4 separate regions of the Homo sapiens genome follow, and regions 1, 2 and 4 are each linked to region 3. The links come from fine-mapping of genetic effects on gene expression. A gene starts in region 3. Each other region holds a variant in brackets. All regions are shown on one strand. Distances are between the middles of the regions. Region 1 overlaps SEZ6L2 (seizure related 6 homolog like 2). Region 2 has its middle 170 kb from the start of NPIPB11. Region 3 holds the start of MVP (major vault protein). Region 4 overlaps KIF22 (kinesin family member 22).

What was found.
Region 1: its variant is fine-mapped to the expression of MVP in whole blood (INTERVAL, PIP above 0.99).
Region 2: its variant is fine-mapped to the expression of MVP in whole blood (TOPMed, PIP above 0.99).
Region 4: its variant is fine-mapped to the expression of MVP in whole blood (TOPMed, PIP above 0.99). The same link has a PIP of 0.9 or more in lung.

Annotation. Positions count from the first base shown.
Region 1 is chr16:29,864,356-29,872,455 of GRCh38, reverse strand. It overlaps SEZ6L2 (seizure related 6 homolog like 2), which reads left to right. Exons shown (of 18, transcript NM_001243332.2): 16 at 1-47; 17 at 173-269; 18 at 728-1,297. The coding sequence ends at 757. It also overlaps the pseudogene CDIPTOSP. Among named protein-coding and RNA genes, the nearest start is that of CDIPT, 5.2 kb to the right of the region's middle. The variant G/A (reference allele first, on the strand shown) is at 4,562.
Region 2 is chr16:29,232,569-29,240,668 of GRCh38, reverse strand. No RefSeq gene overlaps it. Among named protein-coding and RNA genes, the nearest start is that of NPIPB11, 170 kb to the left of the region's middle. The variant G/A (reference allele first, on the strand shown) is at 4,965.
Region 3 is chr16:29,817,285-29,825,384 of GRCh38, reverse strand. It overlaps MVP (major vault protein), which reads right to left and starts at 4,923. Exons shown (of 15, transcript NM_005115.5): 1 at 4,875-4,923. It overlaps PAGR1 (PAXIP1 associated glutamate rich protein 1), which reads right to left. Exons shown (of 3, transcript NM_024516.4): 2 at 8,093-8,100; 3 at 2,896-5,830. The coding sequence ends at 5,631. MVP-DT (MVP divergent transcript) reads left to right here and starts at 5,018. Exons shown (of 4, transcript NR_186424.1): 1 at 5,018-5,201; 2 at 5,784-5,845. RefSeq lists enhancers at 1-117, 178-257, 4,200-4,489, 3,952-4,518, 5,210-5,279.
Region 4 is chr16:29,791,961-29,800,060 of GRCh38, reverse strand. It overlaps KIF22 (kinesin family member 22), which reads right to left. Exons shown (of 14, transcript NM_007317.3): 2 at 2,973-3,168; 3 at 1,560-1,687; 4 at 1,314-1,468; 5 at 877-1,086; 6 at 567-797; 7 at 280-433; 8 at 13-148. Among named protein-coding and RNA genes, the nearest start is that of KIF22, 5.3 kb to the right of the region's middle. The variant TGAAG/G (reference allele first, on the strand shown) is at 4,329.

The DNA of each region.
Region 1 (8,100 bases), 47 kb before region 3:
GGCTTGGTCATTGTCCTCGGCAGTGGCGTTTACATCTACTACACCAAGTAAGTAGCCTGCTTGGGGACTGCCGGCCAGGGCAGACGTCTTGCGAGCCTGGCACTGGAGCCTGGGTCAGGGGAGCTCAGGGGCTTACCTGTTGATAAGCTCCTCTGTCCTCTCCCTTTCCCAGGCTTCAGGGAAAGTCCCTTTTCGGCTTCTCGGGCTCCCACTCCTACAGCCCCATCACCGTGGAGTCGGACTTCAGCAACCCGCTGTATGAAGCTGGGGTAAGCACCTTGCCTGCCCCTGAAGAGCCACCACTTGGCTCTCCCAGGACTCCATAACCTTCTCGCAAGGTCTCTGGAATCTCTGTCTTGGGAATTTCAAACTCAGCTGCCCCCAGAGGCCATGTCAATGAGCATAGCAAGCCATGTGTATACAATAGGGAGTGGTGAGGACTGTGGCTAAGTGGAGGACTTGTGCCCCATCTCAAGAATACGGCTCTACCCCATAGTCGAAACTGAGGCACAATTGGCAGATCTTCCAATTATTCAAGACAAGCCAGAAATTCAGATTTTTGTGTCATTTTACGACACCGTAGGATGAACCAAACACATTCACTGGCCCCCCAGCCCCTAGAGGTCAATGTTACTTTAAAACCCAGGATCGTTGCCCCTCCTCCCATTCGGCTGCCTCTTCCACCCCTATCAGACTCCAACAACTGACCTGATCTCTCTGTCTTCAGGATACGCGGGAGTATGAAGTTTCCATCTGAACCCCAAGACTACAGCTGCAGGACCCAGGACGCCCCTCCCCTCCTCATTCGGGCAGAGGGAAATACGGGACCCGGTCTCTGCCTCCTGGCTGCCCTCCTCCCTGGCTGTGTAAATAGTCTCCCTATCCCACGAGGGGGCTTTGATGGCCCTGGAGATCCTACAGTAAATAAACCAGCATCCTGCCGCCCAAAGCCGCCTCTTCTCAGTTGCCAAACGAGGGGCCTGCCCCCCGCCCTACCGGCTTTTGGATTCTGGGAGGGGAACTCTGCCTCCCTGCAAATCTTGCAGCCCCTCCTGCCCAGGGCACCCCTCAAGGACTGCCCCCGATAGCTCTACTGTTCCCTTGGCCACGAAGGTGCCCCCCTCCCAGATGCCCTGGCCCTAGGCCTGACTCCGGCCAGGAGGGTCAGAAGAAGGACAAAGGGGAGAGCTGGGACAAGGCCTTGCCCCCTTCCTGCCATCTCCCCAACCCACAGTCTCTCCACCTTTGCTTCTGAATTCTTGTTTTTGAGCAATAAACAGAAAATCGCCACTTGTAATTGGGCCGGTGGAGTGTGGGGAGGTGGTCACCGAGCACTGGACCACTTCTCTGGAGAGAGGGCTGGGGAAAGGGGAACAATTTGAAAAAAAAAAAAAAAAAGGAAATGCGAAAGTGGGCAGAGGGCAGTGTCCGGGGGCCTGGCCTGAGGTAAAAAAGCCTGGCTTTAGGCTCAGCCTCTGTGAAGGCCTCCCTGCGACCAGCCTCACTCCAGGACGCAGTGACCTCTCCACCAGGCCTTCCTTGACATTGTGGGCCTCTTCCAGATGGGAGAGAACTGACAGGAGCCACCCGTCTTCTCTCGCTGCTGGGCAGGAGGCAAACAGCTTTCAATTTCTTTCTTTTTAGAGACAGGGCCTGGCTCTGCCGGCCAGGCTGGAATGCAGTGGTGCCATCACAGCTCACTGCAACCTCAAACTCCTAGGTTCAAGGGATCCTCCCGCCTCAGCATCCTGAGTAGCTGGGACTACAGGTGCAAGCCATGGTGCCTGCCTAATTTTTAAATTTTTTGTAGAAATGAGATCTTGTTACGCTGCCCGGGCTGGTCTCGAACACCTGGCCTCAAGCAATCCTCCTTCCTCAACTTCCCAAAGTTCTGGGATTACAGGCGTGAGCCACCAAGCCTGGCTTTTCAATTTGTCTTATGACCAGTTTGCCTAAAATTCACCCCCTTTGGAGAATTTTTGTATCCATTCAAGTACACCATTTCTTCCCCCCCCCCCAATCTTTTTAGTATTTTAGGCGTATCTGCTGTGACCCATCTACCAATTTGAACTTGTTTTATATCCTTGGGGGTGTCCTTTTCCACTTTATCTTTTTTTTTTTTTTTTTTCACTCTTGTCACTCAGGCTGCAGTACAATGGCGTGATCTTGGCTCACTGCAACCTCCACCTCCTGGGTTCAAGCCATTCTCCTGCCTCAGCCTTTCGAGTAGCTAGGATTACAGGCACCCATGCCTGGTTAATTTTTGTATTTTTAGTAGAGACCGGGTTTTGCCATGTTGGCCAGGCTGGTCTCGAACTCCTGACCTCAGGTGATCTGCCTGCCTGGGCCTCCCAAAGTGCTGGGATTACAGGTGTGAGCCACCTTGCCTGGCCTAATTAAAATTTTATATTTAAGCCGGGCATGGTGGCTCACGCCTGTAATCCCAGCACTTTGGGAGGCCGAGGCGGGCGGATTACGAGGTCAGGAGATCGAGACCATCCTGGCTAACATGGTGAAATCCCTTCTCTACTAAAAATACAAAAAATTAGCTGGGCGTAGTGGCGGGCGCCTGTAATCCCAGCTACTTGGGAGGCTGAGGCAGGAGAATGGCGTGAACCCAGGAGGCGGAGCTGGCAGTGAGCCGAGATTGCGCCACTGCACTCCAGCCTGGGCGACAGAGCCAGACTCCGTCCCAAATAAAATAAAATTTTATATTTAAATGCAATTAAACATTTTTAGGATACTTGAAAGGATGCTGAAATATTCAGAAAGGGGTGGACTTTTAGGAGAATGTGAGGCAAACTGATCTCAATAATAGCAAGCACTTTGTATGCATTATGTTGTTTTTTTGTCTTTTTTTTTTTTTTTTTTTTTTGCGACTGAGTCTTACTCTGTCACCCAGGCTGGAGTGTAGTGGTGCAATCTCAGCTCATTGCAACCTCTGCCTACTGGGTTCAAGTGATTCTCCTGCCTCAGCCTCCCCAGTAACTGGGATTACAGGAGCCTGCCACCACACCCGGTTAATTTTTTTATTTTATTAGAGACGGGGTTTCACTATGTTGGCTAGGCTGGTCTCGAACTCCTGACCTCAAGTGATCCACCCGCCTCAGCCTCCCAAGTGCTGGGATTACAGGCATGAGTCACCACGCCCGGCCTATGTTTTTTTCTTTAGAGACGGTGTCTCTGTAGTGTAGGCTGGAGTACAGTGGCACCATCATAGTTCACTGCAGCCTCAACCTCCTGGGCTCAAGTGATCCTCCAGCCTTAGCCTCCTGAGCAGCTGGGACTACAGATGTGCTCCACCACACCTGGCTAACTTGTTTACCTTTTTAGGGGTGGGGGTTCACTCTGTTACCCAAACTGGTCTTGAACTCCTGTCCTCAAGCGATCCTCCCGCCATACTGTCCGGTGTGTCTCTGGGATTACAGGCATGAGCCACCATGCCTGACTCAATTATGTCTTTTAACTCTCTAAAGGACCCTACGGGACAGGGATCATTTATTAATCCATTTTTTCAGATAAGGAAACTAAGGCTCAGAGATGAGAATTGACTTCCACAGGAGGCTCCAATAAATGGCCAAACTTTGTGCAGTTTGCATTTAGCAATGCAAATGCTAAATGCTAAAATGAATTTAGCCTACTGCAAAGCCTACTGCACTGCTTTCTGGCTAGTAATGAGTGTGATATGTTCTCACAGGCATGAAGCCCAAAGCTCAGAGGGGCAAGGCCATAGCTCAGTGTCCCCATCCCCAATGGTGGTGGCAGAGGTGGCTCCTCAGAAGCAAGAGGAGTCCTGCCAGATGCCACAGACCTAGACCTTAAGGTGCTGGCGTGTGGCCAGGAGGCTGGATTTGGACCCATGAGCTCATCTGTGTCAACAGGCCGGGTGTGGTGGTTCACACCAGTAATCCCAGCACTTTGGGAAGCCGAGGCAGGAGGATCATTTGAGGCCAGGAGTTCAAGACTAGTCTGGGCAACACAGTGAGACACCGTCTCCACACACACAAAAAAATTTTGAGACGGAGTCTCGTTCTGTCGCCCAGGCTGGAGTGCAGTGGTGCGATCTCAGCTCACTGCAACCTCCGCCTCCCAGGTTCAAGTGATTCTCCTGCCACAGCCTCCCTCCCGAGTAGCTCGGACTACAGGCACGTGCCACCATGCCCGGCTAATTTTTTGTATTTTTAGTACAGACAGGGTTTCACCGTGTTGGCCAGGATGGTCTTGATATCCTCAGCTCATGATCTGTGCTGGGATTACAGGCGTAAGCCACCGTGCCTGGCCACAAAAAAATTTTTTTAAAGACTAAACACTCCAATCGTATGCCCACATCCAGCACCCACATCTAGAAAAAAAAATAAAAGCCCCCCCGTCCTGCTTCTCTACCCCAGAGAAACCACACATGAGCAATGCACACCCTGTCTCTTTATTAAAGCACTTTCATTCCTGGTGGTATCCTTGCTGGCTGAGGCTGGAGGGTCCTGTGATGAATCCAGAACACTTTGAAGGCTTCGGGATGATGCTGCTCATGACCAGGAGGTCCCCACAAACGGAAGTGGTTAAC[G/A]AGTGGCAAAAGAGTAGTTTTGAGGCATGTTCTAGGGACAAAAAGGGGGAGGCATGAGAAGCCAAGAGCATCAAAGAGGGGTGGGCTCATCTTCCAAACTGACTGTTAGGAAGAGCTCCATAAAAGAGACAGAGCCTTTTCACTCTTTAGACCCAAGGCTCATGTCTTTTTTATTTTTCTCGAGACAGGTCTCCCTCTGTCAGCCAGGCTAGAGTGCAGTGGTGTAATCATATCTTCCTGCAGCCTCAACCTGGGCTCCAATGATCCTCCCACCTCAGCCTCCCGAGTAGCTGGGACCACAGCTGTGCACCACCATACCCGGCTAATTTTTTAAACCTCTTGATAGCAGGAACTCTGTTTCGTTCACTGCAACACCCCAGCCCCTCGAGCAGTGCTGGCACATAGTAAGTGCTTAATTTTTATTTATTTAATTTTTTGGAGACAGAGTCTCGATCTGTGGCCCAGGCTGGAGTGCAGTGGTGCAATCTCAGCTCACTGCAACCTCCACCTCCCGGGTTCAATCAAGTCTCTGCCTCAGCTTCTCAAGTAGCTGGGATTACAGGTGCGTGACACAATGCCTGGCTTTTTTTTTTTTTTTTTTTTTTGAGAAAGAGTCTTGCTCTGCAGCCCAGGCTGGAGTGCAGTGGTGTGATCTCGGCTCACTGCAACCTCCAACTCCTGGGTTCAAGCGATTCTCCTGCCTCAGCCTCCTGAGTAGCTGGGATTAGAGGTGCATACCACCAACCCAGCTAATTTTTGTATTTTTAGTAGAGACAGGGTTTCCCCATGTTGGCCAGGCTGGTCTCAAACTCCTGACCTCAGGTGATCTGCCCGCCTGGGCCTCCCAAAGTGCTGAGATTACAGGTGTGAGCCACCGCGCCTGACCTAACGTTTGTATTTTTAGTTAAGACAAGGTTTCACTATGTTGGCCAGGCTGATCTTGAACTCCTGACCTCATGATCCACCCGCCTTGGCCTCCCAAAGTGCTGGGATTACAGGTATGAGCCACCGCACCCAGCTCCTCCTACTATTTCTTTCTTTCTTTTCTTTTTTTTAAATTTTTCTTTTTGAGACAGGGTCTTGCACTGTCACTCAGGCTGGAATGCGGTGGCATGAACATGGTTCACTGCAGCCTCAACCTCCTAGGCTCAAGTGATCCTCTGGCCTCCGCCTCTCAAGTAGCTGAGACCACAGGTTCGTGCCACCACACCTGGCTAATTTTTTTAACTTTTTATAGAGATGGGGTCTCTCTATGTTGCCCAGGCTATTCTTGAACTCCTGGGCTCAAGCGATCCTCCCACCTCCCAAGTAACTGGGATCACAGGCACATGCCATCATGCCTGGGGTATCACCATGTTGCCCAGGCTGGTCTCAAACTCCTGGACGCAAGCGATCCTCCTGCTTCAGCTTCCCAAAGTGCTGGGATTACAGGCATAAGCGACCACACCCAGCCAGGAAAGTGTGTAAGGCTCTAAACAAGGCACATAAAGTCTCTTGAGTCCCCTCTTACCTTGCCTGTAGACTCCAGCTGCTAAACTGCTTCTCCCTGCCCTAAATACACACAGATGCTCACACTGGCTCTGCGAAGACTGCTCTTTGCCTTTGTTCATGCAACCCCAACTGCTTGAAAGACTCCTACTAACCTCTTTTTTTTTTAACCTGGAAAATTATTTCTTTTTTTTTTTGAGATGGTCTCACTGTCGCCCAGGCTGGAGTGCAGTGGTATGATCTCAGCTCACTGCAACCTCTGTCACCATGTTGACCAGGCTGGTCTCAAACTCCTGCCCTGAAGTGATCAGCCCACCTCAGCCTCCCAAAAATGCTGGGATTACAGGTGTGAGCCACTGCACCTGGTGGAAAATTATTTCTTTAGGTGCTACCTCCTTCAAGAAGCTCCAAAGCCTGTAATCCCAACACTATGGGAGGCCAAGGAGGGCGGATCATGAGGTCAGGAGATCAAGACCATCCTGGCTAACACGGTGAAACCCCGTCTCTACTAAAAATACAAAAAAATTAGTCGGGTGTGGTGGCGGGTGCCTGTAGTCCCAGCTACTTGGGAGGCTGAGGCAGGAGAATGGCGTGAACCCAGGAGGTGGAGCTTGCAGTGAGCTGAGATCACACCACTGCACTCCAGCCTGGGCAACAGAGCAAGACTCCGTCTCAAAAAAAAAAAGAAGAAGCTCCATGGCTCCTGTCCTTCCTGTCCAATTGAAGCTGGGATAAGAGTACTATCCCACTGTGTCCATTTCTATTATGGAAACTTATCCAGACTGTATTATAATTGGCCATTTCCTTGTCTGTCCCCACACTGAACTGTGAACTCTTCAAGGGCTGAGACTGTACCATTCATTTCAGTGTCCCAAGCTCCTAAGACAGGGACCAACATATAGTGCAAACTCAAAAGGTTTGGTTAATATCGAATAGCCTTGGCAGCCATGGACCCTGCATGTACCTTTTCACCAGGAGTTGGCAGGAGGTATGCCTTGCTGCAGGTACGGTTTCTGTCCGAGCAGGAGATGGTGGAAGAGAGGGGAGAGGGCTGAGAATTCAGAATTTGAGGATCAGGGCAGAATAGAATGGAAGTGCACGGTTCAAAAATTCCCCCACCCTGCTGGGATATTGTGAAACCCTCACTCTCTCCCCTCCAGGTTCCTCACCTCTCTCCCAGGACAAAGAGCATCTCCCTTGAAGCCTCACTCACCAGGTGTCTGTGCCTCAGGTCTTGGTGAAGAATGCTGGAAGTAGAGGACCTAGTCAGAGAAAGGACTATCCCCGTGGCCAGAAGAGATGCGGCCAGGGCAGACGGGGCTAAGGGGATTCTCGGCCAGCAGTGAGGAGTGGGTACTGGGTTAGCGGGTGAGAGGGGCATTTCACAGGTCCTAGGGCTGGCTGTGAGATGGATGAGATGGGCACAGACTCCTGGAGAGTTCAGCTAGGGGTGGGAGGGGTCAGGGACTGTAACCAGGCATAGTGGGGGCAGCGGTTCTCTAGACACGGTGGTCCTGAGGCAGGGGGTTACCGCGTTTGGATATCTGAGTCGCTTGGTCTTGTGACTGCTTTTTTTTGATGGGCACAGGGTTCAAGTGGCAGCAAGCAGTGCACAAAGCCTCCTCCATGAGTTCTGCACTGATCTGGGACAGGTATTCCTCAGAACGAGATAACGAAGCCTGGGAAAGGAAAAGCCGGAGGGGTTCAGCCTGGGAGCTCCCACATGGGAGTGCTGGCTGTGGGAGTTCCCAGGCTGGGGCCTGTGGGTCCAAGGAGCTTGCTCCTGAAGGACTGGGCCTTGAGATTTAGCTAGAAAGCTCTGGACCTGGGGGAGGGGGGTTTGGTGGGGGTTTAGAGTCAGGGCCTAGTGCTGAGAGCTATGAGTCGGGGCTTCAGGACTCAGGGTTGAGGCTAGAGTCTCAGGGCCCGTGGCTCAGACCTGGCACGGGGTGCCTCTGCCTGGGAGGCTTTCACTTCATTACATTCCCACCTCTAGGGTTCCCTGCAGTGCTCACCGGACCTCCTCTCAAGGAGGGTGCAGCTTGAGATGG
Region 2 (8,100 bases), 580 kb after region 3:
GGTCCAGCTTTACCAGGCATTAAAACACACTAAAAAGCTTCTTGAGAGAAAAAAGTGTGGGACCGACACACAACAAAACAGAACGGTGGAAAAGAACACCCAGAAATAGACCTGAGGACCTCTGAATAATTTGTAGATGGTCAAAGTGACGTTCACGTCTCTAGGACAAAGATGATCTTTTTAACAAACGGTGCTGGGACAACTGGTTAGCCGTTTAGTAAAAGATGGAATTAGATTCATATCTCATACTATACATAAAAAATAAACTCCAAATGGATTAGAGATCTATATGTAAAAAATTAAACCATACAAATACTAGAAGGAAATGTCAGAAAAGCTTTTTAAACTTCAGCATCCAAATGCAACACAAGAGAAGATGGGTACATTTGATGGTATAAAAACAGAACCACTTTTCAACATCCAAATGCAACACTAGAGAAGATGGATGCATTTGACGATATAAAAACAGAACAACTTTTCCATGGTTAAAAAACACCGCAAAGAAATCCAAAGGACAAATGACAAATTAGGAGAAATATTTATAACATACATCAAATATAGGGGAAATAGTTCTAATACAGAAAGCATTATTAAAAACTGAGGGAAGAAATGACCAAAGACCCAATAGGAAAATGAACAAAAGACATGAAGAGATAATTTACCAAAAATGTTTATAAATGGGCCTTAAACACATGAACAAATGGCTCAATATCACTCAAAACAGAAATGTCAATCAGAGCTACATTGCAGTCTCATTTTTCACCTCTCAGATTGCAACAATGTAGCAGCGTCACTGAGAACATGTTCCCATGAGAAGGCTCTGGAGAAGTGGGCCTTTCCTTACTTTGCTGGTGGGAATACAAATTGGTAAAACCATCTTGGAGGAAGAGTTTACTTTTGCATCAGTAATCTCATGACTAGAATTTACTCTGAAGATACTCTTACAATAGTATGAAGATGCATTAAAAAAAACAGATGCACAGGTTTATTCATTGCAACATTGCATGTAATTGCAAAATATTAGAAACAATTGGAATGCCCACAGACAGGAGAGAGGTTGAATGAACTGTGGTACGCCCAAACAGTGGAGTACTATGCAGCTGTAAAAAAGAATAAGGAAGTCCTCTATGAACTCATATGGAGTCATTTCCACGATATGTTATTAAGTGAAAAAAAACGTAAAAGACTATCTCTAACATGCCATCTTCTGGGTAAAAGAAAGGGGAAATAAAACAATGCTTATTTTTTGTAAAAAGAAAGACAGGGGCCTGGTGCGGTGGCTCACACCTGTAATCCCAGCACTTTGGGAGGCCGAGGTGGGAGGATCACGAGGTCAGGAGATGGAGACCATCCTGGCTAACACAGTGAAACCCCGTCTCTACTAAAAATACACAAAAATTAGCTGGGTGTGGTGGCGGGTACCTGTAGTCCCAGCTACTCGGGAGGCTGAGACAGGAGAATGGCATGAACCCGGGAGGCTGAGCTTGCAGTGAGTCAAGGTCGCGCCACTGCACTCCAGCCTGGGCAACAGAGCAAGACTCCATCTCAAAAAAAAAAAAGAAAAGAAAAGAAACACCGGAAGAACAACCCAGAGACTGATGAGACGGTGTATGTCACAGGAGGTGAGGGACAGTGTTGGGGAGATGGACTAGGAAGCGACATTTCTCCGAATAGATGTGTGTGTGTAGGGTTTTGTTTTGTGGAACCAGGTTAAGTTTACATACTTGAAAGGAAAAAAAGAGGGGGCAGGTGACTCTAAATGGATTGCAGATAGAAACAAAAGAAGCTCGCTGTATTTCAGGCAAAGAATATGTGGGGTGAACAGATGTGTTTTCCACAGTGGGGTGGGTTAGCAATGCTGAAACTATTTTCTGTTTATTCTAGGACTGAGCAAATAAGCAAATACCCTGAGAATGGTAGAGGGCAGACCTGGCCCTGCTGGGGAAGGAGTCGCAGGTATTCCAGGTTGGAACTGGAGGCATCGTGGGAGCTCGTGGCTCATGTATGTTAGAGAGTGTGTGTGTGTGTGTGTGTGTGTGTGTGTGTGTGTGTGCATTTACTATGGAGAGATTATAGATGCAGATATATGTGTGTGTCTTTTCTTGTCCTGTCTTGTCTTATCTGTACGTGCTTCCTTCCCTCCTCCCTTCTTCCCTCCCTCCCTCCATCTCTTCTTCCTTCTTCTCTCTCCCTCCCACTTCTCCTCCCTCCCTCCCTGCCTCCCTTTCTCTCCCTCCCTCTCTCCTTCCCTCCTTCCTTCCCTCCTTCCTTCTTCCCTCTCTCTCTCTCCCTCCCTCCCACCTCTCCTCCCTCCCTTTCTCTCCCTCCCTCCCTCCTTTCCTCCCCTTACACTCCCTCACTGAAGCCACTGAAACACCCTGGACACCGAGGCACTCCAGTAGTAATGAGCACACTAGCACCCACGTCTTGGTTTCTGGATACCTTTTGCCATGAACAGAAGGCTTCATGGGAAAAGTTCCAGATTGTGGCACGTGACAGGGAAAGCGCCAAATTGCAGCACGTGACAGGGAAAGCGCAGATGAGCTTGGGATATCTCTTCCTGCTGCAAAGGAAATAGGTACTTAAAGGATGATGGGGACACAGGAATTGGCTTGAAGGGGCTCCCACTGACCAAACCCGGGACAATGTGGGCATCAAACACATAATGATGGCAATGGATTATAACCCATTAAATCTTTAAAAAGCCACGAGTCCACACTAATATAAATGAATACACAGATAAATGGGGAGAAAGGAAATCTCTTCAGTCATCATGAAATTTAACAAAGTACAGGACATTTATATATTCCCAAGGCAGCTCACAAAATACTTATTAAGTCTGGCAGGCTAAATCATGGCCGCCAAAGACACATCCACCCCCGACACCCTCGAGCCTGTCACCGCGTCTTCATATGGAAAGGGGACTTTGCAGATGGGATCGAGATGTGGAGGTGATGTGGCTTATCCAGGGCGCCCCAGCTGCTATCAGGTGCATCCTTATAAGAGGGCCAGAGGGAGATTTCAGACAGGAGAGGAGGTACTGTAACCATTAAGGTGGAGACGGGAGCGATGCGGCCACAAGCCGAGGAAGCCAGCAGCCCCAGAAGCTGGAAGGGCCGGGGAGACTCTCCCAGGTGCAGGGCGGCCCCGTCGACACCTTGGTTATGTCTAGGGGAGGCTGATTTTGAATTTCTGGCCTCAGAATGGAGAGAATAAGTTTTAAGCTCCCGGTTTGTGGTTCGTTGTTGGAGCAGCCACAGGCACCCAGAGCCGCCAGTCCCTTTACAGGGGGGACAGCTGGCGGCTCCACTGCACCCAGGTGGTCAGAGTTACCCTCTCAGCCAGGGAACGAGGAGGCGCAGCCTCACCTCCCCGCCGTTCCCGCGGCCTCACCTCCCCGCCGTTCCCGCGGCCTCGCCTCCCCGCCGTTCCCGCGGCCTCGCCTCCCCGCCGTTCCCGCGGCCTCTCCTCCCTTCCGTTCCCGCGGCCTCACCTCCCTTCCGTTCCCACAGAGATACCAAGTGGGATCTCTCACCAGGAAGCGCCCGCCAGACCCAGGCAGAGGGGCAACATACAAACTGGTCTGTTCCCTCCAAAGCCATCGAGGTTTAAAAAGAAAGAAAGACGCAGGGTTCCAGGGAACCAGAGTCGAGTCGTGACAAACCAGCACCACTCTGGCTGCTGGGCTGGACCAGAAACAAGTGTAGGGTTTTGTTTGTTTGTTTGTTTTTTGTCATAAAGAACACGATTGTGGTAATCGGCAGCCTTTGAACAAGGTCCGTGGATCTGGTAACAGGATTGCGATCATGGAGGTTTTCCCATTTCCGAAATTGAGCTGCGGTTATGAAAGGGCCTCTGCTTGCTCTTAGGAAGTACACCTGAGGTATCTGCGGTGAAAATAAATCCATGCAACGAATGGAAGTCCCAAGGGAGGCGCCCAGACCCACAGCCTCCTGCACTCAGTTCGGGTCTCCAGTCTGTCCAGCCAGTGGGCCCTGAGCCCAGGCCAAGACCCAGGATGGGCCCCAGGAGAGGGGCCGGGACCACGCAAGTGAATTCCTGGCCCTTCTGCCTCTGGCGCTGCTGTTGAAGAAAAACAAGTCCTATCCCGGCTGGACTCCTGGGTGCCGTCTCCGGGCACAGCTCAGCTTTTCCTAAAGCCTCTGCCCAGCATGGAGTGAGAGATCATGGAAAACACGGGGGGTCAGCACAGCTCCCCCCTCCCTCACCAGGAACGGCGTCTCTCCCTGGGGGCTGCAGGCCTGGGCACCCCTGTGCCACCCGGGGTGGGGGCTCAGGGTCCTTCTTCAGGCCTGTCATGGGCTGGGCCCCCCCCCCGCCCCGAAACCCTCCACTGCTCCCCAGTTCTCCACACCCTCTCGGAACATTTCCCAGGCTGGCCTCATTGCCGACTTTCTTTGGTTTTCAGAATTTCTTTCCAGATCTGTGTTAAAGCCATCATTTTTTCTGGCCTGTGCGAGTCCTCACACACATCACTCACCCCCCATGACTGCTCAGAAAACCCAGCTTCCTCCCCATAGAAAACGTCTGAAATGATCGCGCATCTCTGACACCTTGTCACTACACCAGGGACAGTGAGGCACGGGGTTTGGGAGCCGGTTCCGCATCCGTGCCTTGTACTGTGCTGCTGTTACTGCCGGACGAGCCCCAGGCCCTCTCTTTGCTTGTGTGCGTTTTTATAGAGAATTCTAGCATCACCCCAAGACTGTTCATTCCACTTTCAGGATTGCCACGCTGGAGCTCAGCCCCTTAAGCTGAATGTTCAGGAAAAAACTATGAGGTTGATGTTAGGCTCTTAATGATGTTTGAATACAGGATTAGAATCCTTAAAAATGCCTTCTCAAAACACAGCCCAAATGGGGAACTCTGCCTAGAACGGGGTTTCTGGGTACGGCCCTGCAAAGTGCTCCTGTACCCTTTAGGAGCCTCCTCGAAGCCCTGCT[G/A]TGCCTCAGGAGGCTCCTAAAAAACCCTTCGAGGAAGCCGGGACATAATCAGGTGGTTCTACGAAGCCGATGTTCTGCCGGGAAACATCTCCGTTGCGAATTGAGGTCATGTGTTCGGATATTATTTTCCTCATTCTCCATTTACTTTCCTAAAATAATCAGCTCCTGAGGATTCCTGTGGCAGAGGGCTTCCAGTAACATCTGCAGTGAAATATCGGGGTACAGGGAATGCAAGCTGCTGGTAGGGGCACCTCACAGAAGGAGGCCTGGAACACAATGGCGATGGACGCAGGCTCTGCTCCCTCGGCGCTGCCCCTTAACGCGAGCACTGATTTTTACATTATAAATCCTGCAGCTGGCGCACACTTGGGTTTCTATGGAAGGTCCCCAGCACTGTGCTCTCCGACTTCCTAGATGCCTGGAGGCCGGTCGCCAGCACCCAAACTGGAACTTTCAGAGCAATCACTCCCTTTTCCACGTCTGAAGGATCCAGGTCTCAAGAGTGACAGTGAAAAGCTGCAGACTTCTCGGCAGCAAATCCAGTGAACACCCCACTCCAGGACCCTTTAGATTCCAGAAGGCCAAGCAAAGTCATTTGAGACCACAGCGGAGACAGCTGTGACCATCCTGGAATGCCCTCCCACCCTGGCTGTGTGGGCGCCTTGTGCCTGATTTCCTCTTAACAGGGTCCTCCTGCGTTCTGGCCAAGGCGGCTCACAACCATTTTGAAAAGTATCTCTTCCTCCTGTCGGAGAAAATCCTTTAGAAGCTTGAAGTCAGACATCTTTTCTCTTCTCTACCTGCCTCCCTCTGCATGGTTTTCCACGAAGAGGGACGAGGAGGGCCTAGCGGTGCTGGCCAAGTGGCCTGAAAGAAGTGGGAAACAGAACGGCAGGGGCTTCCCAGAATCTCTCCTGGTCCACGGGTGTCACGATCCCACTCTGCCCAGTTCCCAGGATGCCCAGAAAAACAGAGACAAGGCCTGGGGCACCCTAGCAGCTCTATGTGGCTTATGGGGCATCTCCAGCTGCTCTATGAGGTTACGGGGCACCTACGGCTGCTCTATGGGGTTACGGGGCGCCTCCCGCTGCTCTATGGGGTTACGGGGCACCTCCTGCTGCTCTATGGGGTTATGGGGCAGCTCCGGCTGCTCTATGGGGTTATGAGACACCTCTGGCCACTCTGTGGGGTTCATGGGGCACCTCCAGCTGCTCTCTGGGGCTTATGAGGGACTTCTTTAAGATTCTATTTCAAAACCCACACTTGCTATGGATTGAGTTGTGTCCGAGTCCTACCCCCGACCTGTGTGAGTGTCGCTTGGTTGGAAATGGGCTCTTTGCAGATGTAATTAGTCAAGATGAGGTCGTGCTGGAGTAGGGTGGGCCCTAAATCCAATGACCATTGTCTTTATAAAGCGAGAGACACAGAGATACACACACACACAGGGAGAGACACAGAGCAGAGGCCATGTGAGGATGAGGTGGGACTGGAGTGGCATGGCCACAAGCCAAGGACACCTGGAGCCACCAGGAGCTGGAAGAGGCAGGAAGGATCCCCGGGAGACCCCCGAGGCAGCATGGCCCTGAGACACCTGGATTTTGGTCTCCAGGCTGAGAGGGAGTGAGTTCCACGGCTTTGGCCCCCAGCTCCTGCCTCCACCCCCGCCCCGTCCCCGCCCCCACCGTCATTTGTAGTGTTTTGATGCCGCAGCTCCGGGAGCTCACACGGGGCCCTGCTTCCTGGGCTGCTGTGGGATCAGGAGAGGAGGCAGGCGCGGCCCTCAGGTGACAACCCCAGGCACCTGTGTGCGGACTCGCTGACGGTGGTGGGGGAGGGCCCTGGGCACAGAGCGGGCGGATGAGTAACCCACCTGAGCCCTGAGGACCCCATTCTTCCTAGGCCCGGGTCTTGGCCGTGTCCAAGGCTGCAGCCCTGTGGGTTGGGGGCTCCTCCCTCCCTGGGGGGTTCCTCACTCTCCGAGCACCTGGGCAACTAGAGGCTGCTCCGGACTCACCCTTCACCGCCTCTGCCCCTCCCACTCCGAGCTTCAGACCTGCTCTTCCCAGCCCGTCTGCCCTTCCCACTCCGAGCTTCAGACCTGCCCTTCCCGGCCCCTCTGCCCTTCCTGCTCTGAGCTTCTTCTTTTCAGCCTGACTCACGTCCCCTGCCCCTGCTCCGATTTGACCACTCTCCCTACGCTTGTCACTGAGCACTGTACCTGGATTCGGTGGGGGCTGCCTGCACTGCACAGAGACTGTCACGGCAAAGGACAGGGCGTCGGCCGTGGCACCCGGCTCAGGGCCCTTCCCTCACCTCCAGCCCTCAAGGCCACCACGAGGCCCTCATCTCACCTGGGCTGCCGGGACCTGGCCTGGCCTCCCCTCTGGGGCTCTTGACCCCCGGCCCCTGCCGCTGCCCCTCATCACCTCCTCACCCCCAGTGCTGACCCAGAGCAGACTCAAGAGATGCAGGCAGAGGCTGAGGATGCTGCACAGGGTGAGGAGTGAGGCGCCCCCACCACCAACCGGCCACCTGGAAATGCAGACACAACGTTTCCTAAGGTCTCTTCCAGAAACTCAAAGTCCATTCTACACCCCGGAGCCTCAGGTTCTGAGATGCCTTGGACCAGATGTGCTTCCTGCGGTGCCAGAGCCAGCATCTGCCCCGCCCTGGGTCTGCCTGGGAGAATGATGATGGATAAGAGACAGGTGCCACAGACACCTCAGGGGCGCACCTGAGAGGTGCTGGCTGTGCTCCTGGGGATAGGTGGGTGCAGCTTATCCACGGGGGCACCTGGAATGGCAATGAGAGGACTTTAGGACCCACAGGCGGGCAGGACAGCCAGAGCCTCACTCTAAGCACCCCCGGTCCTGAGCCCGAGCCAGAGCAGCCTCCTGCAGCTTTGGGCAAGCTCCTGGGCTGTGTTCAGCCACTTCTGTACGTGGAAAATGCAAGGTTGGTGTCTGCCTCACAGTGCAGCCACCACATGACTGGTGTGGGGAACAAGGTGTGTGATCCTTGTTATAACTGGTTAATAGGAATGACAGCCAACACGGATTCGCAGGTGCTGTGTCCATGCCTCACACCACAGATGCTGAACCTGGCATTCCAGCCACTCTGGCCACTGCCCGTGGGG
Region 3 (8,100 bases):
AATAGATCAGGGCCCTCAAAAGACAATAGCAAGGATTGTGTTGACCTTTGGAAGGCTCTGCCCAGCCCTCAGGCTTGGCCCCTGCTCCCCAGATCCACTCATCCACCCAACTTCCTTCAGTCTCTGCTTCTGAGACCTGCCCTAGTCGGCTCTCAGTGTAGAGGCCCAGTCTTGCCTGATCACACCTCCCTCAGGTGTCATGAGGCTCCTGCAAGAACCACAGCCAGCTTTCACCCCAAATCCCACCAGGGTCTCTCCCACCATGAGGGTAAATAAGCAGGAACTAAATAGCCTGTCCAAAGCAGAAACCAGGTTCATTGTCTAGTTAAAAGAGGGGCTCTTGCCTGAGAGAGGTGGCTCACACCTGTAATCCCAACACTTTGGGAGGCCGAAGGTGGGAGGATGGATTGAGGCCAGGAGTTCAAGACCAGCTTGGGCAACATAGCAAGGCCCCATCTCTTTAAAGAAAGAAAAAAAAAAAAAAGAGGGAGACCGGATCAGACTCTTGGCTCAAAAGTAAACTTCTGCTACAGCAAAACTTAATAAATAAACGAGTCATGAGTCACTACTTCCCAGAGATCTTCAGGGTCAACTGTGAGTAGCTGATATACTGAATCTCTTTTTTGTTTTTTTTGGAGACTGTAGCCCAGGCTGGAGTGAAGTGGCACAATCTCGGCTCACTGCAACGTCCACCTACCTCCCAGGTTCAAGCAATTCTCGTGCCTCAGCCTCCCGAGTAGCTGGAATTACAGGCACATGCCACCAAGCCTGGCTAATTTTTTGTATTTTAGTAGAGATGGGGTTTCACCCCAGGGTGGTCTCAAACTCCTGAGCTCAGGCAATCTGCCTGCCTCAGCCTCCCAAAGTGCTAGGATTACAGGCGTGAACCACCACACCTGGCCCCTAGTGAGTCTTAAATGGCAATTGACCAAGTGACCACACTGCCTACGGGGTCTGCAGTGAGTAGAGTGGTACCACCTGGAGGCTTGATAGCAACACAGCCTGGGGCCCCACCCCAGAGCCACTGAATCTACTGGCATTTTAACTCGACCCTCAATGACTTGCATGCACATTACAGTCTGAGCAGCTCTGGTCTAAAGCAGACTCTCGGCTCGGGCTGCACACTGGTCATCTGGAAATCTGTTTTTTTTTTTTTTTTTTTTTTTTTTTTTTGAGATGGAGTTTCGTGCTTGTTGCCCAGACTGGAGTGTAGCCATCTCGGCTCACTGCAACCTCTGCCTCCCGAGTTCAAGCAATTCTCCTGCTTCAGCCTCCCAAGTAGCTGGGATTACAGATGTCCGCCACCACACCCAGATAATTTTGTTTTTAGTGGACAGGGTTTCGCCATGTTGGTCAGGCTGGAAGTGATCCACCCACCTCGGCCTCCCAAAGGGCTAGGATAACAGGTGTGATCTGCCGCGCCAGGCCTTCTGGAGACCTTTTTTTAAAGCCACCCATCTCCGGTGATTCTATTTAATTGGTCTGGGTGAGGTTCACCCGTTGCTATTGTAAAAAGTTCTCCCTCATTTTTTTTTTTTTTTTCTGAGACGAGTCTCGCTCTGTCACCCAGGCTGGAGTGCAGTGGCACGATCTCGGATCACTGCAGCTCCGCCTCCCGGGTTCATGCCATTCTCCTGCCTCAGCTGGGATTACAGGCACCCACCACCACGCCTAGCTAATTTTTTTTGTATTTTTAGTAGAGATGGGGTTTCACTGTGTTAGCCAGGATGGTCTTGATCTCCTAACCTCGTGATCCGCCTGCCTTGGCCTCCCAAAGTGCTGGGATTACAGGCGTGAGCCACCGCGCCTGGCCTCTGACTCTTAATATATATCCAGGATTGAGAGCCAGTGGGAAAATGTCACTCCAGCAGGTTTTATCACTGCCAGCATGCTCCTGGGCCACTTACTAGCCTCTGAGCCTTCCTCTCCAGTGAAGTGAGAATAAAAGTGACTGTTGACTAGGCTTGGTGGCTCCCACCTGTAATCCCAGCACTTTGGGAGACCAAGATGGGAGGATCACTTGAGGCCAGGAGTTCAAGACCAGCCTGGGCAACATAGGGAGACCCTGTCTCTATAAAAACCATAAAAAATATTAGCTAGGTGTGGTGGTGCACACCTGTGGTCCCTGCTACTTTGGAGGCTGAGGTGGGAGGATCGCCTGTGCCTGGGAGGTCAAGGCTGCAGTGAGCCGTAAATGGAGCACACGAGTGCGCTCTAGCCTGGGCAAGAGTGAGGCCATCTCAAAAAAAAAAAAAAAAAAAAGAAAAGAAAAGAAAAGGAAAAAAAAATGACTGCTCTTCAAGTCAAAGGTATTAGAGACTGGAGGGTCTCTGGTGCACAGTAGGAACTGGGAGGAGGATAAAGATCAGTTTCAGGCCGGGCGCAGTGGCTGTAATCCCAGCACTTTGGGAGGCCAAGGCAGGCGGATTGCCTGAGCTCAGGAGTTCGAGACCAGCCTGGCCAACATGGTGAAACTTCGTCTCTACTAAAAATACAAAAATTAGCCGTACATGGTGGCAGGCAACTGTAGTCTCAGCTACTCGGGAGGCTGAGGCAGGAGAATTGCTTGAACCAGGGATGCAGAGGTTGCAGTGAGTCGAGATTGCGCCATTGTACTCTGGCCTGGGGGACAGAGCGAGACTCTGTCTCAAAAACAAAAACACAGCTCCGATTGCAGGCTGTGAAGGGCAGGGAATTGCACTCATTCTCCTCCAGCCCCTTCCCTTACCCAGGTCCAGGCAGCCTCCTTTGTCCCCAACCCCAGGGCTCTTGCTCCAGGCAGTCCTGAGGTTGGACGTAAGGTCGGTGATGCGGCCCTGCCCCCAGACCTTCCCACAGCTTCAGGTTCAGGAAAAGGCACATGAAGTTTGGTATAAACAAGGACACAACTTCACAGAGTTTCTCACTGATTTAAGTTAAATATTCTAGTCTTTAGAGAATGGGTCACATGACTCAGGAATTGCCAACAGCCTGTTTTCACCCAGCGGCTTCCTGGTTTACCCCCTTTAGGAGATGATTAATGGAAATTGAGAATGTGTCTCATAAATTACTTTTTTTTTTTTTAAAGCAGCACAGTTTTAGGAACTTTTCGAGACAGAACAGCTCAGCCAGCCTAGACTTCCACTTGTCCTCCCTCCTCCCACTCCTGCCAATTAACACCAGTCACCAGAGGCAAGAACCGCCTAGATCAGAAGCGACCCCAGGAACCAGGCTTCAGCACCCCTGATCTTCATCAATATTTTCTCAACTTGCCTAATCATAGGACTGAGCTATAATTCTTTAAAAAAAAAAAAAAAACAAAACCCCAACCACACACACACAAACAGAGACAGGGTCTCGCTATGTTGCTCAGGCTGGTCTGGAACTCCTGGCCTCAAGCCATCCTCCCATTCGGGCCTCCCAAAGTACTGGGATTACAGGCCTGAGCCACCGCATCCAGCCCTAGGCTGGAATTCTTAACCCCACTCCTGCTGCTTTTTGCAGGCCTCACTTCTGACTCACTGGGTCTAAGTTTCCGGGAGAGAGCCTCTGGACCCTGTGTTCTAGGCAAACGCCCCTAAGTAACAGCTCCCACTTCAGATGAGCTTAATCTGTGCCAGGTAGTGTTAAGTGCCCTCAATTAACTCATGTTATCCTCACAAGAACCTGCAAGTTAAGAAATTTGCCCAAGAGCACACAGTTATCAAAGGACGGAGCCGGAAGTCCAACCTGGCTATAACTGTAGAGACCACAAACTAGGAGGCAGTGGCTTCTCAGGCAGAAACACAAAGATTCTAAGCCGAGAACAAGAACTAGAGGACCTGGGTGGGGCTGTGTACTGCCCAGATGGTGCTAATGGCAGTTCAAAGGTGAGTGTTTCCTGTAAGTTGGGCCAGCGCCCAGCCTCTGCTCCCCCAGAACCTGGGAGGGCAGCACCCAAGATAACCTGAGCACCCCGTTACCTTGGAGCCCTGAGGCTGTCTCTGGGCCACCCACTCAAGGTGGCCCCCCTACCTGCTCAAGGCTACATACAGAGGGCTGTCCTGCCCAAACAGCCACACCCGAGGGCCGACCCAGTGCTCTGTGTGCCAAGGGAGTTTCTGGCAGAGCCACCTGATACCCCACGTGACAGCTGGCCTCTCCCCCATCACCCAGGGGCTACCCAGGCAGAGAGCTGAGAACACAGGGGCCATCAGCCTCGCTATCACCTCCACCCCCAAGTGCTTGGCTCCCCAAGGGACAGCTCTAAAATCCCCAGAATCTCAGGCTGGTGGGTCCAGCTGAGCATCCTAGTTTTCACTTTCTCCTCCCAAAAAGGAAAGAACCTTGGTCACTAAATTCTACGCCTTCTGGAAATCACTCTGCTAATGACTTCCTGAATGATCGACTGAGACCAACAGCTGGCCCAGCCCTGCATGGAGGAGTAAGAAACCCTCATCTGTCAGAGTTAAGGGGCCTGAATGGGTACAGGTCACATTCTTGGAGCTCAAGGTGACAGGCCAGAGCCCAGGTCCCCAGGACAGTGCAGGTGAGTAGAGCAAGCACCGATCTAGGGCTAAGATGGGGTCTGAATGACCCTGTAAGGTTCCCCACCTGATTTCCCAGGTGGGACCCTGAAGTCAGAGAGAGGCCTGAGAGTTGCAGGGGGGTGGGGGACCGGTGTTGGTGTTAATCTGCCTTTACTTCAAAACCCAGAAGACTCCCAACTATTGGAAAGTGAAACCTCCAAAAGCAAAGCCACCACCCATCCTCCTTCCCCACTCTGATTCAGACATGTTTTCCCTGCCCCAGCAGAAGCAAGGCCCTTCAAAGCAAGACAGGACTAAAGAGAGCCTCAAGGGATACAAAGATCTGCCCCTGATTTGGGGTTTGGGGGGCTAGTACAATGTACTCACATCTAGAAGTGCAGGTAGCTGCAACAAACGCCTCAGATGGGGAACTCTCACCCTGCCTTGGGGATCACTTCCCGGCAGGGCAAGGCAGGCCAAGCCCAGGGGTGGGGCTTGGGAGTTAAAGGGCCCGTGTGCAGCTGGTTCTCATTTTATCCTCCGGGCTGCTTCTGCTGCAGCTGAAGGCACACTGCTCCCTGAGTGCTCATGGGTTTCTACCTTGGAGCCAGCTGGCTGCACTGGAGTGGGACTGGGAGGAGTTGGAGGGCCCGAGATGGGACAGGTGCTAACTGAGGGCACCTCTACCCATCTGGCTTTCATTTTCCAATCTGGGTGAGTACAATTCTGCCTCTCCCTTCAAGTGGGGCCTAACTGTTGAGCTACAGCTACAGCCCCTCCTTTTAAGAGATGATAGCTCTGCATCTTTTATTTCAGACTCAGAAAATTCAGTCCAGGTCTCTGAATAGGTGTTCAATAGAAAACACACACTCACACACTCTCTCTATATAGATGTTCAATAGAAAACACACACACTCTCTCTATAGGTGTTCAATAGAAAACACACACACACACTCTACAGGTGTTCAATAGAAAAAACACACACACACACTCACACTCTCTCTTCCTCTTTCCCGCAACGTGCTGTTTGGGAGCTTGAGGTTTCTCTCTTCTTCCCAAGTTTCTCAATGTCTGGGCTGGGGAAGGAGGGCCCAGGCTCCAGCAGGTACGGACACTGCACCCTAGAGGCAGGAGCAGTGGGAATCAGTATTTCCGCTGCCGAGGGAAGAGACTACTCCCGGAGGATCGGAGTGGGGGGCTGGCGGGGCTGGGGTCCTCCGAGTCCAGGCTGAAGAGGTCCCTCCCGGTACGAAGGATCTGCTCCTCCAGCTTCTTGTGTCTCTTCATGTCCGACAGCACCTTGTCCAGGCGGGCCTCCCGTTTCTGGCTCCGGGCTGAGCTTCCTGGAGAAGAGGAAGGTAAGATACATGGAAGGGATGGAGGTGGTGTACACCATACCTGCCTGGACCTCACTCATCACTTGGGGAGCTGGTTAAACATGCAGGTCCCCAGGCCTCTGTCTTGGAGGACCTGAGGTTCAGGGTTGGACCTCAGAGAGGGTGAGAAGCAAAGATCTTGATTGACAGGAAGGCACAGGTAATGTGAAGAACAGGGAGGAACATACTGGGCAGGGGAATGGCAAGGGTAGAGGCCCCAGGACAAGAACAGAGTTCTGTTCAAAGAAGAGTGCAGGCCGGGCATGGTGGTTCACGCTTGTAATGCCAGCACTTTGGGAGGCTGAGGTGGGCAACTCACGAGGTCAGGAGTTTGAGACCAGCCTGGCCAACACAAAAAATTAGCTGGGCGTGGTGGTGGGCGCCTGTAATCCCAGCTACTTGGGAGGCTGAGGCAGAAGAATCGCTTGAACCCGGGAGGTGGAGGTTGCAATGAGCCAAGATCGCACTACTGCACTCCAGCCTCGGTGACACAGCTACACTCCGTCTCCCCTACTCGCCAAAAACAAAAACAAAAAAAAGAGTGCAGAGAACTGGAGGTGGCGGGAAAAGCGCTTGGATTCTCCTTTGACATGCTCTTCCCTGGCAAGATGGAATCCCTTGGAAAATTTTAAGTGGAAAAGTGACACGATTTATGGCTGAGTGCAGCAGCTCACGCCTGTAATTCCAGCACTTTGGGAAGCTGAGGCAGGCACTTTGGGAAGCTTTAGGTCAGGAGTTCAAGACCAGCCTCGCCAACATGGCGAAACCCCCTCTCTACTAGAAAATACAAAAATTAGCTAGGCGTGGTGACGTGTCCTTGTAATCCCAGCTACTCAGGAGACTGAGGTAGGAGAATCGCTTCAACCCAGGAGGTGGAGATTGCAGTGAGCCAAGATCATGCCACTGCACTCCAGCCTGAGCAAGAGAAAGACTTCGTCTCAAAGAAAAAAAAAGTGATATGATTTATGTTTTAAAAGGTTCATCTGAATTGCAGAAGCTGGAAGCAGAGAGCCCAGTTAGGAGCTACTACAACTATCCAGGCAAGAAAGACAGTGGCTTGGATGGGGATGTGGTATTGAAAGTGGAGACTAGCAGAGGTACTTGGAAATGTACATCTTATAGCTACCAAGACTTGCTGCTGGTGTGAATGTTCAGGTAAAAGAGAGAGAAATCAAGAATGGCTCTAGGCTGGGTGCAGTGACTCATGCCTGTAATCTCAGCACTTTGAGAACCGAGGCGGATGGATCACTTGAGCTCAAGAGTTCGAGACCAACCAGTCTGGGCAACACAGCAAGACTCTGTCTCTCCACCCCTCAAAAAAAAGAAAAAAGGAAAGGCATGACTCTGAGGGTAAATTCTAGGAAGGCATGTGGGGTGGGAAATGGGGCCAGCGGTGTGATTAAAGAATGTACATGGTAGTAGAGGGATGCAGATCTAGATAATATTGAAAGGCCAGGACTTGGACTTCTGGGAATGGGAAACATGATAGAATTATCTGTAATTTTCCAGAATCAATGACTAGTTGTTTTTTTAAAAAAAGAATTATCTGTAATTGTGTTTTTTGAGACGGAGTCTCACTCTCTCGCCCAGGCTGGAGTGCAGTGGTGTGATCTCAGGTCACTGCAACCTCCACCTCCCAGGCTCAAGCGATTCTCCTGCCTCAGCCTCCTGAGTAGCTGGGACTACAGGTGCCCGCCACTATGCCCGGCTAATTTTTTGTATTATAATTGTCTCTTAAAGGAAGACAAGGGGCCAGGCGCATTGGCTCATGCCTGCAATCCTAGCACTTTGGGAGGCTGAGGTGGGCGGATCACAAGGTCAGGAATTCAAGACCAGCCTGGCCAACATGGTGAAAGCCTGTCTCTACTAAAAATACAAAAATTGGCCCAGAGTGGTGGCATGCGTCTGTAATCCCAGCTACTTGGGAGGCTGAGGCAGGAGAATTGCTTGAACCCAGGAGGCGGAGGTTGCAGTGAGTTGAGATCGTGCCATTGCACTCCAGCCTGGGGGACAAGGGCAAGACTCCATCTCAAAAAAAAAAAAAAAAAAAAAAGGAAGACAAGGTAGTAATCTAAGTCATAAAGATGGTGCTACTGGGTGAATACTCTCTCCTGCAGCTGTAAGTTGTGTGGGAGCTGAGGCAGCAAGCAAAGGCCTCTAGGGGAGCCGATCTTGGGTAACTGAGCCGAGGCCCTTCACCTCCCCCAACTGTTTCCTCTTCGTTTGTACCTGGGGTG
Region 4 (8,100 bases), 25 kb after region 3:
CCCACTGCTCACCTGAGTTTCTGGGAGGCAGAGGCTGGAGCTGCCATGGGCTCAGGGCTCCCGATCTCCTCTTCCTCAGGGCCTCGGGCTCTCTTTGCCTCTGGTGGACCAAGCAATTCTTTCTGAGACAGCTTAACAGGTCCCAAGGCTAGATGATTGGAGGATGGGGTGGAGAGAGGGATTGGGGGTGGTCAGCCTCTGTGCTGATGCTTGGTGGTTTCAACAAACTCCCTAATTTCCAGACCCAGCGTTTCCACTCCTGCCTCCCCCAGTTCTCACCATGAGGCTGCAGGCTCTCATTGGTAAAAGGCCGATTGATCACCTCCTTGGACCTGGCAGCAAAGTTGAGTGCGGAGACTGTGTCTAGGTAGAAGCGTCTCTCAGGGGCAATGTTGGCAATAAGGATACTGTGGGCTGAGCCACCCAGAGAGTCCTGAGGGTGAGACCAGGCAGTGGGTGGGTCAGAAGCCCAGCCTTCCTATGCCTCAACTGCTATTCCCCACCCCACAGCAGGCCTGAGAACCTCCTTCTGCAGCCCCTTCTTCCCTGAGACAGGTGGGCCTGACCTGCAATAGGCGAGTGAGCTTGCTGTCCCGATAAGGTACACGAGGGAGGCCCTGATTCAGCGCATCTACCACTTTGCCCAGGACAAACAGGGAGGTGTTGATGGCTCCACTCTCTTTTAGCCGAAGGCCCTTGTTGCCTGTGCGCCGGTTGTCCTCTGACCCAGCCAAGTCAATCAGGTAGAGTTTTCCCTCTCGCTGGCGAAATGGGGCCAAACGTTCCCGCTGGTCCACCTGGGGGTAAGAACAAAGGTCTCGTGCTTAGCTCAGGCTCCTGGGCTTCCCAGGTCCTCGCCCCTGTCTGCGGCCTCACCTTGACCAGGAGCACAGCATGACTGCGGGAGGAGCGCTGGTTGAGCCGGGTGGCTCCTACAGTCCGATTTCGACTGGCTGGCAGGAAGTGCCGCTCAAAATCAGCAAAGCTACTGATGGGCTTCTGGGAGAGACCCGGAATCAGGATATTCCCCCGGCAGTCTTCTCGGATTACCAGGTCTCCCGAAGCAGGGTCCAGGAGGTCTAATACCTGTGTAAGCAGTGAAGGGGAAGGGCAATTCTCCATAGAGAGGCTGTTTCTTCCTGGGGATCAGTTTCCTTTCTCTGTTCTATTCTCGGAGTTGTACCATCTGCTACCCCAGTCTCTGTCTTTCTAGGTCTCACCTTACCTCCCTGCTACAGCAGAGCTTCATGTTCTAGAACCAGGTCTTACTTTGACCCTTTGTTGCTCCTCTCCCAACCAGCACGGGGCCTCACCTTCTCCTGGTAGATCTCTAGGTAAGACATGGTGACAGAAAGGGCCCATGGCCGGCCCTCGGCACCCTCCTCCCTTGTGAGCTGCAGGAGGTCCATGAGAGCCCGCGGGATCACCCCAGGTTGCTCTGGGCTGCCCAGCATTGTGTGCGTCTTCCCTGGGAAGAGAGTGGAGAAAACTGTGAGGTTTTCCTCTCCGTTTCCCCAGCCCTTTCTGACCCATAGCTGTTTCTTTTCTGGCTCCCTCACCAGCTCCTGTGGGTCCATAGGCAAGCACACTGGCATTCTGCCCTTCCAGCAAGTGCCTTAGGATGGGCTGCACTGAACCTGCATAGATGTCCTGCTGAGTACTCCTCTCCCCATAGAAGGCATCAAACCTGCAGGAAGAAAGAAAGAAATTAGCGTGTGTGTGTGTGTGTGTGTGTGTGTGTGTGTGTAAGGGGTGGAGTGGGGTGGGGGTGGGTAAGGGATTCTACTCTCATCTGGACCTTGGATTTAAGAGAACGTCTCTATCCCCTTTCTTGTACAAAGACCTTAAAAAGCATCCACCTAACACCTACTCCATCCTCATCTCTCTATTGGTGTTAGGAATACAGAGATAGATCTGATATCCCTGCTCTTGGAGTTTTTCAGTCTGGTAGGATAGATATCCACACTTTGCTGTGATTTAGGAAACGAAGATAAGAACACACTCTCAAAGGAGTAACTGATTCTGCTCAAGGAAGGAAGATTTTGACCAAAGAAAGAAATTCTGAGAATCAAGAATAGCAAAAAAGCAAGGCTTCCCAGTCTTTTTCAAATGGCTACATGTGTAGAACATTGTATTTTACACCATAATGGGGAAAATAGAGGATGCTGCTTATGACTGAACTAGACTCTACATACCAATCACCTATCCACTGCGTTCTGGTGGAGAAGTGCAGCTTAGGCCACAGCAGGGAGTTTAATATATATTGAGGGAATGAGGCTGGAAAGAAACTGAAGCCCAAATTGTTAACGGCCTAGTATGGGAGCTAGCAAACTTCTGTAAAAAGGCAGATTGTACATATTTTAGGCTTTGTGGGCCATGTGTTCCTTTTACAACTACTCAACTCTGCCACTGTAGTCAGAAAGCAGCTATAGACAATATGTAAATAAACGATAAAATTTTATTTACTGAAAATCTTACTCCTGATCAGATTTGACCTGCAGGCCATGGTTTGCCAGCCCCCGCCTAGAAAAACAGGCCAAGGAGTTTGAACTTTAAATCCCCAGTAGGATTATAAAGTAGCTGCCCTTCTGAGTTCTGTCCCCAAATCTGGGTGGTCTTCTCTGACACTACCCAGCTGCAGCTTGGGTAGGCTGGCTGGCAGGTCTGTGTTCCGCCAACCCTCCTGATATGTCCCCCAGCCTCTACTTGGGGCTCACCTGCTCACCCTCATTGCTCCTCCCTCTCTGTGCACAGTAATGTATGTTTGATTCAACCTCTCATCTCTCCCTACAGTATCCCAGAGAGGGCCCATCATGGGGGCACCTGTCAACATTTCCTAAGTGAACAGTGAAGGCTCAGGGAACAAAGCGGTGCTAAGGAGGGAGCAAGGATCCTGGGGAGGCAGGGGAACGTGGGCAGGCCTAGGAGAGGGAGGTGATGGCATGAGGGAAGAGGAGTGGCCTGAACCTTACTGGTATTTGAGAGTCTCCTGGTGGTTCCTCCAGTTAGCAATCTCTAGAGAGCAGCTGTCCATGCCCCGCACACAGGGGGGATCACTTGCTCCCGCTGTTCCATCCACAAATGGCCGCAGTCGCACAGCCACCCTTACGCGAGCTGGAGGTGGACGACGAGTAGCTCCAATCTTGCTTAGCCGACAGCGACCAGCTCCTGGAGGAGAGAAGATCACTTTTAGACATGAAGTATGGTGGTAGCAGAAGAAGCAGGGACCAACTTTGCTGGGCGGGCTGGGGGCCACAGCTCATGTTGGAGAAGCTCATTCTGCCCTGGTCATGTTGTGGACACCCCTAAGCTTGGCCTCAGTGCCTTCCCTGCTCTACAAGCAAGTGCAGCAGGTGTATAGCAGGCTTCTCAGACTGTAATGTATACACAAATAACCTGGAGGATCTTGTGAAAATGTGGATTTGGTCTCCGTCTCCCTGGGGTGATGCCCGAGATTTTGCATTTCTAACAAGCTCCCAGGTGATGCTGGGCACTTAAAAAAAAAAAAGAGAGAGAGAGGGATGGAGTCTCACTAGGTTACCCAGGCTTGTCTTCAACTCCTGGGCTCCAGCGATCCTCCTACCTCAGCCTCCCAAAGTGCTGGAATTATAGGCAGGAGCCACCATGCCTGGCCCAGGACATGTTTTGAATTGCCAAGGGTGAAGTAGACCAGCACCTCACAGGGTTGTTCTAAGGATTAAAAGGGTTGACATCTGACCGAAACCTAAACCAGAGAGCGAACTGCCAGAATTTTCTGTGTGTGTGTGTGTGTGTGTTTTTTTTTTTTTTTTTGAGACAGTCTTGCTCTGTCACCCAGGCTGGAGTGCAGTGGCATGATCTCAGCTCACTGCAACCTCCACCTCCCAGGTTCAAGCGATCCTCCCACCTCAGCCTCTCGAGTAGCTGGGATTACAGGTCCCCAACACCACTCCTGGCTAGTTTTTGTATCTTCAGTAGAAACAGGGTTTCACCATGTTGGCCAGGCTGGTCTCAAATTCCTGACCTCAAGTGATCTGCCTGCCTTGGCCTCCCAAAGTGCTAGGATTATAGGTGTGAGCCACCCTGCCCAGCCTGTACCTCCATTTCTTAACTGGGGTTTCTAATATGTATTGAGACGTATGTATACTCACAGACCCACCCACCCCTGCAAACTGTTAATGATGATCTTCTCTTGATGGGGAATTATGTGGGTTCTGCAAAAACCACCGACATGCAATTCTTCTCTCATGTAAACTTAACCCTGAATTTGCTTCAGATGATTAAGTTTTTTTTGTTTTGTTTTGTTTTAGAATTGGCAACTGAATTATTTTTATCATCAGAAAACACAA[TGAAG/G]ATAAAACTTAAAAAAAGAAAAGCCCTCTATTTTTGTGGGGGTTAAATGAGCTGAAAATATCTAAGGAGAGTATTACTCTATTTTACGTTGGAGGATAACATACTGTAGCTCATAGTGGAATTCAAACCTAGATCTCTTCCCCTCTAAAAATCTGCTTTTAATAGGATGCTGTATTGCTTCCTTATTATGTACCAACTGGGAAAGCTCCTGGCAGCTCTTTCCCTTCCTTGCTGGTGGTAGCAGCTGGTTGCTAGGAGCCATAGGCCTCGCAGAAGGCAAAAGGCTGGCTGGTATACGTAGCCAACACAGAAACAGCAAGACGAAAAGGCAGACAGATGACCCCTACAAAGAATCTTACACCTAAGTAAGGCATGCCCATAAGCAGACGGGCTGTTTCAAAAACTGAACCTCCATTCCATCATCTGATAAATGGGGCTACTAATACCATTTCTCACGTTATGGTAGCAAAGCGCTTGGACATCTAGTTCTCATTTGTTCCTCATGGCAATCCTGAAAGTCAGGAGCAAGCAGGTAAAAACCTGCAGATGCATGTGTGCAGATAGAAAACTGAGGTGCACTGACTTGTCAAAAATATGTGCAGGACCTTCCTCTGCCTGCTTTCACAGGATGTTTTGGGAGAACAGAAAGATGGCAGATGTAGAAGCACTTAAGGAAGCGCAGTGATCAATCTAAGGGGAAGGGGAAGTCAGTAATGAGGTAGAGTGTAGACTCTGGTCAGACAGAAGTGGACTTCAATTCCAGCTCTGACATTTATTAGCTTGTGACCTTGGACCTTGGTTTCCTTGTCTGTAAAATAAGGTTGGGGGTGGGCCTTGGGCTTTTTGAGAATTTGGCCGGGCGCAGTGGTTCATGCCTGTAATCCCAGCGCTTTGGGAGGCCAAGGTGGGCAGATCACCTGAGGTCAGGAGTTCGAGACCAGCGTGGTGGTGAAACCCTGCCTCTACTAAAAATACAAAAATTAGTCAGGTATGGTGGTGGACGCCTGTAATCCCAGCTACTTGGGAGGCTGAGGCACAAGAATTGCTTGAATGCGGGAAGTGGAGGTTGCAGTGAGCAGAGATTGCGCCACTGCACTCCAGCCTGGGTGACAGAGCAAGACTGTGTCTCAGAAAAAAAAAAGATAATTGAAATAAGTGCCAGATAAAGTGGCAGCACAGTGACTAGCACATAGTAGGTAGGTTCATCATTCAAGGTAAAATGGCCTGGGTTGAAATCCCAGCTCTGCCATTTACAGCTAGCTAAGTAACCTAGGGAAATTATTTTCCATCCCAGTGCCTCAATTTCCTTACCTGCAAAATGGGAATAAAAATACCTCTTTGTTAGGTTGTTAGGAGAGTAATTAAGGTGATTCATGTAAAAGTGCTTAGAACATTATCTGGTATTTGGTGAAAGGCCAGTAAGTGCTTTTTAATGTCCGTCTCCCATTTTCCAGATGAGGAAACCTCAGTATAGAGGGGTTAGCTGACTGACCCAGGGTCAACAGCTAGTGACTGACAGCTTCAAATGAAGATCTAACTCCAAAGTGCTTTATATGAACCCTCCTCAGCCTCCTTAGCCCCTTCATCTTTGCATCTCATAAGAATGTGAGGATTCAAAGTAATAATGTACATACAATGTTTAGCACAGTGCCTGGCAGCAACTGCTCAGTCCTTAGCTGTTATTATTACACCCTTTCTCTTGCTACCCACTCCTCCATCCCTGCAACTTGCTTCTGCCCTCACTATTCAGCAGGGTCACCCATGACTTCCCTAGTGCTAGATCCAGTAGGCATACTCAGCCTCAATCCTGTTGGACCTCCCAGAAGTATGCGACACTCTTGGGAAACACACTTTTCCCTTCATTTCCATGCCCCCCACCTTCCTGGTTGTCTTACCTAGTTTTCTGTTCACTCCTCATCCTAGGATCCGTCTATCCTTTCTCTAGACCAGCATTTCTCAACTTCAGCACTACTGACATTTCGGGCTGGCTAATTCCGTTGTGGGGCTGTCCTGTGCATTTAGACTGTTAGCATATGCTTACTAGATGCCAGTAGCATTCTCCACCCTCACCCTCAAGTTGTAACAACTAAAAATCTCTCCAGACATCTCCAAATGTCCTGTGAGGGACAAAGTTGCCCCGAGCTGAGACCACTCAGATTCATTTCATAGGCAGGTCACCCGCCCTCTTGGCTTCAGTAACATCTTACAGCTGATAAGTCCTATTGCACGTTCTGCACAAGAGCTCTCAACTGCAGCCCACGTTCTGAACGGCTGCCCTGACGGCTCCTTTTTTTTGAGACAGAATCTCACTGTCGCCAGGCTGGAGTGCAGTGGCGCTCTTGGCTCACTGCAATCTCCGCCTCCCGGTTCAAGCGATTCTCCTGCCTCAGCCTCCCGAATAGCTGGGACTACAGGTGCACGCCACCACGCCCAGCTAATTTTTGATTAATTTTAGAGACAGGGTTTCACCATGTTGGCCAAGATGGTCTCGATCTCTTGACCTCGTGATCCACCCACCTTGGTCTCCCAAAATGCTGGGATTACAGGCGTGAGCCCAGCCGACGGCTCCTCTTAAACTCCACCTGTCCTAAACTGAACCCTCCTTCCCCATCTCTCTGCAGCCTCCTCCTTTGATCTCTGATGTAAATGAATGGCACCAACCCCAAAAGTGGGAGTCTTTAACTCCAACGTCTCTTACCTCCCACATCAGTTCATCATTAACATCTGTCAAGTCTATCTCTTTAAATCTCTCTTGAACAAGTCCACTTCTCTCCACTCCCACTGCACTACCTCTGCCCAAGGTCATGGTCTTTACAGCCTTCCTTGCTGGTGGTAGCAAGGTGTCTCCCTGCCCTCTAGTCATTCCCTCTGTTTCCTTCCTTGCAGTGTAAGTTACCAGTCATGATGAATTTCCTTCACTTCCTACAAAACTCCAAGTTCTCTTGCACCTTTGGATTTTTGTCCACGTTAATCTCTCTCCCTAGAATATCTGCATTGCTCCCCACCCCACCCTGGAGTGACTAAGGTAAACACATTTTAACTCCTCTTAAAAAACAAAACCAAAAACCCTTTCCTGGTAGACACTAAGGCTTTATCAGGTGCAACCACAGCTCATGTTAGCCCCTCCATAAGCATTTGTCACACCCCACTATTGCGTGTTTGTCACTTTCTCCACCTGACTGCCAACTGTGAGAACAAGTTTTATCCTGCTCACCTTTCTAACCCCAACACCTGGCGCAGAGTAGGCCCTCAAGAAGTATTTGCTGAAAAAAATTAAGATTTAGTGAATAAACTACTAATCACTGGCTTGTTCATTTCCATCATGAAAATGGCTCACGGCCATTCCTGCCCCAGGGCTCACAGTCCAGGGTAGGAGGGAAGAGGGGAGGGCCACATGTAAACAATTATTTACTGCACAAGAGTCTAGCCCTTTCATGATAAAAGCAACCTTGAGCTTGGACCAGGCTAGCAATTATTAATTTTCCCTTCTTTCACAATTCCTAAATTTCATTCACTCTTCTCCCTTTTATTGATGAGGAAATTGAGCTAAGAGAGCATCTTACATCATAAATAAGAAAACACTTGCTGTTCTTGTCTTCTTAGTCAAGGCCTGGCAAACTCCTATCCAACCTTTGAAACCCATCTCAAGTATCATTCACTCCCTTAATGAAGTCCTCCCAGAATACTCAAGGGCTTACTTCAGATTCCACACCCTCAGTTTATACACATCTCTCATTGTGTTTCGTATTACATCTACGTATGTGACAC